2 separate regions of the Homo sapiens genome follow, and region 1 is reported to be linked to region 2. Evidence: microRNA targets listed by miRTarBase, many of them from high-throughput screens and not tested one by one. Region 2 holds a microRNA gene; the other region holds the end of a gene's coding sequence.

Region 1 (3,094 bases), not on the chromosome of region 2:
CCCCACCCTACATCCTCTGTGAGGCTCCAGGGTGGCCCTGACTCCATGACCCCTCCCCACCCCCGCAGTGCCTCTCTCACCACTCAGAAGCCGAGTTTCCCACCTCCACGAGGACAGCCAGGTGGCGAGGATTTCCACATGTAAGTGGTGGGCGATGGTGGGTGGGCAGGGAGGGGGTGCTTATGGTAGTTACCCATGGCTGGCACATCCTAGGCACTTGCCATGTGCCAGGCACGGAGCCCGGCCCTTCCATACATGATGTTGATAATGTTCAGCCTCTGTGCTCTGAGCCAGGGGGCTCTTCGGTCCCCTCACCCGTGGGGTGGGCAGGGACAGCCGTCTTTAGGAATTGGTGATGGGAAGTGGTTGGTGGGTGGTGGAGGGCAAGAAGGCAGATGTGATATGGCTCCTTGGAGGGGAAAGGTTGGGTTCCACAAAGGGGCATCAGTGCCTCCCTGACTACTCTCCTCCACCAGGCTCGGAGCAGTCCCTGAGCACCCGGAGTCCAGCCAGCACCTGGGCTTATGTCCAGCAGCTGAAGGTCATTGACAACCAGCGGGAACTCTCCCGCCTCTCCCGAGAGCTGGAGCCATGAGGAGGGGCTGGGACTGGAGCTGGAGCAGGCACTTGCAGCCGGGAAAGCCAGGGTGTGCCGGGCCAAGATACTCACAGGCTGGCCACAGCTGGGCAAGGCTCTCCGTGGAGTGGACTCGAGTCCCTGGAGCAGGCAGTGTGGAGGCAGCCATCCCCTGTGATGACTGGCAGCTAAGGAGGACCTCGGAGTGGACCCGAGCCAGGAATAACGAATGACCCAAGGCCAAGGAAGGGAGGACAGAGAGGCCCCAGGAGTGGGTGGAGAGTGGAGTGCGCTGGGACGTTGTGTGCAATAGAGAGGTCTCCACACCAGATGTCTTCCAGATTCTGTGCCTCTGGCTTTGTTGTCCAGCCAGGCCTGCAGTTTATTTTCACAGTGGACAGAGAGAGAGAGAGAGGCTGCATGTGTGTACCGTGTGTGGCAAGGGCAGGGCCTTGGCCTGGGGCAGGGGCCCCCTGCTTTCTTTCCACAGCTTTCTTCCAACAGCAGGCAGTGGGGCTGCGGGCCTGTGCGGTGGTCCCTGAGGAGCTTTATTGTTACTGTCAACATAGTAGTATGTTCCAGGCCAGCCCAGAGTGGGCGTGGCAGGGAGGCTGAGGCCCCGCCCTCTGGGAAGGAGCTGTGGAGGAGAAGCAGCCCCATGCTGGGCACGGGCCAGACTGGGTCCAAGATCCTGATGCCACCCAGATGTGCCTCCAGGGCTCTGGCCAAAGGGCGGGCTGGAGCCTGGAGCCCCTGTCAGCAGCCAGCCAGGGTGACCATCAGCTCCCCGTGGTGGTCCAATAGGACTTTACAGTCCAGATGCAACTGACAGCTTCTTCCCAACTGCAATCCCCGCTTTTCCACACTTGAGCTCGTCCTGGCCTGTTGGGCCAGGCTTCTGGGGTCTTCTGGGGGTGGCTTGTGATAGAAACAATGCTGAAGCTTCCGCGGAGAGCCCGTCGCTTGTTGAGGCCCAACAGACTTCCAGGAAATCAGGGTTTATCATCAGTGTTGAGAATGGTCCCAGCAAGCTCTGGTCATACGAAGTCCTCTCTTCCCTGCCCCTTCAGCACTTCCCCTAGGAACCAGCTACTGCCAGGACGCCTCTTGCGAGGCAGAGCTCACCCAGGAAGCTCCAGGGACTCCACCCTCTTGCCTTGCTATTGCCCTGAGTCCTGGCAGCAGGAGGCACTTGTCTGGCCAGAGAGAGAACTCATGGCCCCTGGCATGACTCCTGAGTAGGTATTGAGGCTGCAGGGCCTTGGGCGTCCAGAGGCAGCTGGTATGGCCCCTCTGCACTTCAGCCCCATGGATGTGGATACACAGGCCTGCTGCTTCCAGAAAGGGTCAGAGCCTTTAGCAGGGAGGCAGCACAGCTGGGCTTAGACCTCAGGTCACTAAGTGAATCTGAGCAAGTCAGTGAACAGTTCTCTTCCTTCATTTCTCCACCTGTAAGCCAGGTATGATAAACGCCATACAGCGCTTAGTGACAAACACATAAAACTGTAGCTCCTGCCTCTGTAGCAGAGGTGACAGCCAAGGGCAGTCCTGTGCTATCCAGGCCTGGTAGGGGGGCAGCCTCGCCTCAGTTGAGGGCTGAGGGAGAGACTGAGGTGCAGCAGATGGCAGTGGTAACCAAACCAGTTCCCTTGCCGTGGGTGGGGACACAGGAGAAGCACGGAAGCATCTGGAACTGAGCAATCAGGACAGGAGGCTCAAGCCTGGGTGAGTCAGGAGTCCGGGGGCTTTCTTTTCATCCAACCCATTGTCTGCTGGTGTCTCGGCAAAAGCCAGCCAGCCAGCCGTGGCCCTTCACCGTTCTTCAGACTCTAGGGTGAGCCCAGCCCAGCGACACAACAGAAACCAAGTGCCACGGGGGCCGGTGTCCTCCACCAGCATTTCTCCTCTGGTCACATCTACGTCCTGATGGGACTTCTCCCTCCTCCTTGGACCATCAGCTTTACAGTCCAGACCACCCTGCAGCCACCCGGTGGTCTCCCAGCTGCCCCAGTCTCGGGCAGGATGGCTTTTGAGCCTGTTGGGAGAGACCTTGCCAGGAGAATGGTGCCCAGGGCAGGCAAGAGGACACAGACTCTGGGAGCTAGAAGAGTTGCGGCCCAGGGGGCCAGGCCACTCCCAGAGGACAGGAGGCCCAAAAGCGGGGAAAGGCTCCATGTTACGGTGGCCCCATGCTGGGAGTTTGTGCTGCCTTCTGTCTCCCTGACTGCCCAAGCGTGGGGTGGTGTGGGGCAGGAGGCATCCTCTGGTGTTCCCTAGCAGCCCAGGCTGTGTGCAGGGGCTCCCATTTTGTGTCTCAGCTGCAAGAAGGCCACAAAGGGAGGAGGGGCTCATGGGACTGCTGAGAAGAAGGTGTGCAGAAAGGGAGTGTGGCCCTAGATCAGTCCTTTAAAAAGCCTCTGTTACCTGAAAGGAGGTCAAGCAGAGAGGAATGGCTGCGTGTGTGTCCTACCGGGCAGGACAGGACAGAGGGAGGTCATTGTTACACACACATCCCCC
Region 2 (3,188 bases):
CCTCCCCAAACTATTCTAAAAAAAAATCCTATGAGTGAAAATGTACATGCAAACCTGGACTTTCTTCCCCCAATGCAACAACAACAACAAAAAAAGACAGTGGTTTTTCACTGTATTAGAGGCAACAGAGAAATCCCCTGTGTTTCCAGGTTCCTTAGAATACTTGACTGAAATAGGCTTATAGATTTTGATTCATCCACGTCTTCAAATAGGCAAAGGAGCACAAAGCAAGCACTGAGCTGGAAGGCACTTGCCACACCCGAGGCCTGGCCATTCGCTGCAGCACATGGCCTCTTTCAATGGGGCCATCTGTCCCAGAAAAATCTAGAGGTGTTTTCTTCTTTGTTTAATAAAAAAAAAAAATTAACTCCCTGGTTAACAATTAAACCACTGAGTAAAGACAATTTGCAATGTGGCTAATCATTCTGACTCTGCATTAGATGAGCCAAGGAAACCACACTGTATGTACCCTCAGGTTTTCCTCCACCTTGTTCTAAGTGTCCTGGCTTCAAACAGGTGCTGACCCCAAATGACTGGAACCAACAAAACCTGCACTGAGGTCAACTGGTGGGGAAACTGAATACTCATCTGTAGACCTAGGCAACTTGCTTTCCATGTCTGAGATTAACAAGGCTGTACTCGCTGAAGCCTAGGAGTGCACGTGATTTCTGGGGTAGCCACAGACCAAGCCCTAAAAGGGAGGGTGAGAGAGGCAGAGTCTGCAGGGGAGGGGCAGCAGCTGAAAGGCTGAGCGCTGGGACCATCCATAATTGGATTAGACAGCCGCAACCAACTGACTCTTTCAGCAGACCGAGCCCACATTGTGCTCCAGCTAGTGGTCACGTAGGTGTGCTTTGTTTTAAGGAAACCCAATACCTACATTCCTGATTTACAATACAGATGCTTTATTGGGGCACCTCACATGGTCAGACCCTCCTGCCTCTCTTTCCTTTACTGCTTGAGGTGGGTGGGGATCACTTCCTGAGCTCCAAGGAAAAATAATACAGGCTAGAGAATATTTGCATCAATAGCACAATCACAGCAGGCTAGACTGCTTTACCAACACTATCGAATTCAATCTTCAAAGTACTTCCAAAGGCATTCCATTTATTCCCAATGTACTGGTGAGGACTCTGGAAAAGTTCCACAAAACCTTTGGGGCTAAAGTCCTCTGAACGCTAAAGCCTGCGGCCCTGGGGCCAATTAACACACCTCCTATAAGTATTAAAATCTAAATTTTGCTACCCTTCCTTATGAACATTATTTTTAACTCTGGATTACCTGGGACTGAAATCATGAATGTTTTCTAGAGATTCTATTACTTGACATTCTCAAATACAGTGCACACACAACTACTTTCATATGCTACAAAGGGAAGAGGGAATTGTGACATCTGATAGAAGGATAAAGAAACTCAAGTCCAAAAGAACTGCAAGTATCTGACTGTGTACAATTAGTTCTTGGTACAAACTAGATATACAGTGTATTGTTTCCAAAAAGCATTCTGTATACAAGAAAAGTAGATTCAATTACCTAAATAACAAGATGACATTCTGATGATTTGGAGGTTAATTACTGTAAGGCACTAACCAATCAAGTCAAATTCCAGTTGCAAAATTGAATTTTAAAATTGTAATCATAAAATTACAAACTACTAGCAACTATTTCCCATGTTTAACAGCTTGCTCCCTTCTAAACACATACACATATATATATACACATGAACTTCTGTGTGTTCATATTCTTTCTGGTTTAATTCAAGTTGTCGAAAATCTAGACATGTTGTAAATACAGTCATCCCTCAGTATCCAAGGGGGATTGGTTCCAGGACTCCCACGGATACAAAATCCTTGGATGCTCAAGTCTCTGCAATAAAATGGCAGCGCTTGCATATAACGTATGCACATCGTCTCATAGACTTTCAGCCATCTCTAGCTTACAATACCCAATACAAATGCTGTATAAAAAGTTGTTATACTAGTTTTTAAATTTGTTGTCTTTATTGTTGTATTGTAATTTTTTTTTACTGTTTTTCCCCCCAAATATTCTTAATCTGTAGTTGAAGGAATCCGCAGATGTAGAACTGAAGGAGACAAAGGGCTGACTACCTGCAGTTTTACATAAGAGATTAGAATTACAATAACTCAGGTAAAGAATGTTCACAAACTGGACGCTAAACTAGGGCATATGGTCAAGTATGACTTAACCTAGACTAAATTGCTCAGCAGGAAAATGTGTATTTTGGCCAACTCTGACCACCTAGGTTGGTACACCTCATTCTGACATCAACCTAAGGGGTCAGAGTTGGCCAAAATAAAAATTCTACTAGCAGAAATTCTTTCTAGCAGTAAAAAGAAAAGGGAGATGCTCAGATATCCTGGACTCCCCAGAGGGGTAAGATTACCCCTAGGACTTCTCTGTTTACTGCCATGAGAAGAATATCAGCTTGCAGCACCATAATCCAGAGCTGAAAAAAGACTTTTTATACTTAAAAATAGGATTCAGGGGCCGGGCACGGTGGCTCACGCCTGTAATCCCAGCACTTTGAAACCAGCCTGGTCAACACGGTGAAACTCTGTCTCCACTAAAAATACAAAAATTACCCGGGTGTGGTTGCGGGTGCCTGCAATCCCAGCTACTTGGGAGGCTGAGGCAGGAGAATCGCTTGAACCCGGAAGCCAGAGGCTGCAGTGAGCTGAGACTGCGCCATTGCACTCTAGCCTGGGCAACAAAGGGAGACTCCATCTCAAAAAAAAAAAAAAAAAAAAAAAAAAAAAAAAAATTTCAGATGCCATAGTATTTGCAATAGACCAATCAAAAACTCTATGTGCATATAGCACATAAATAACTTCTAATCTAGCCTAGGAAGAAGGATAGCGTGGTACTATCTATAAACCCACTTTGTGACAGCAGCACTTTCTAGCAACAGCATCGGTATTCTCCACAAAATGTAGCAAGTGACACCTAATAAAAATAAAAGGAGTTGACATATCTTGAGCATGTATTGATAATTAGTAATAAACTAGCATAAACTAAAAAGTGAGTTCAATAAGTTGTATCTCTATATACTGGCAATGAGCAAAGAAATTAAATACTTAGGGTGTAACTCTACCAAAACATACACAGGACTACAAAAACTACAAAATGCTAATGAAGTAAATCAAAGAAAAACTAAATAAATGGAGGGA

What was found. Region 2 holds the annotated microRNA hsa-miR-4714-3p (CCAACCUAGGUGGUCAGAGUUG, at 2,247-2,268, opposite strand). A microRNA usually pairs through its seed, bases 2 to 8, with sites in the 3' UTR of a target mRNA and lowers its output. Matches are read on the target gene's strand: a 7mer-m8 pairs with bases 2 to 8, a 7mer-A1 pairs with bases 2 to 7 and ends in A, and an 8mer does both.
Region 1: the mRNA of RAPGEF3 is a reported target of hsa-miR-4714-3p. The part of its 3' UTR that is shown has no 7-base or 8-base seed match.

Annotation. Positions count from the first base shown.
Region 1 is chr12:47,735,068-47,738,161 of GRCh38, reverse strand. It overlaps RAPGEF3 (Rap guanine nucleotide exchange factor 3), which reads left to right. Exons shown (of 28, transcript NM_001098531.4): 27 at 69-140; 28 at 477-3,094. The coding sequence ends at 595. Among named protein-coding and RNA genes, the nearest start is that of ENDOU, 11 kb to the right of the region's middle. RefSeq lists an enhancer at 1-17.
Region 2 is chr15:98,783,553-98,786,740 of GRCh38, reverse strand. It overlaps MIR4714 (microRNA 4714), which reads right to left and starts at 2,315; the gene lies at 2,239-2,315. The region is part of intron 2 of IGF1R (insulin like growth factor 1 receptor); the gene reads right to left. It overlaps LOC124903560 (a long non-coding RNA gene), which reads left to right and starts at 2,788. Exons shown (of 2, transcript XR_007064772.1): 1 at 2,788-3,188.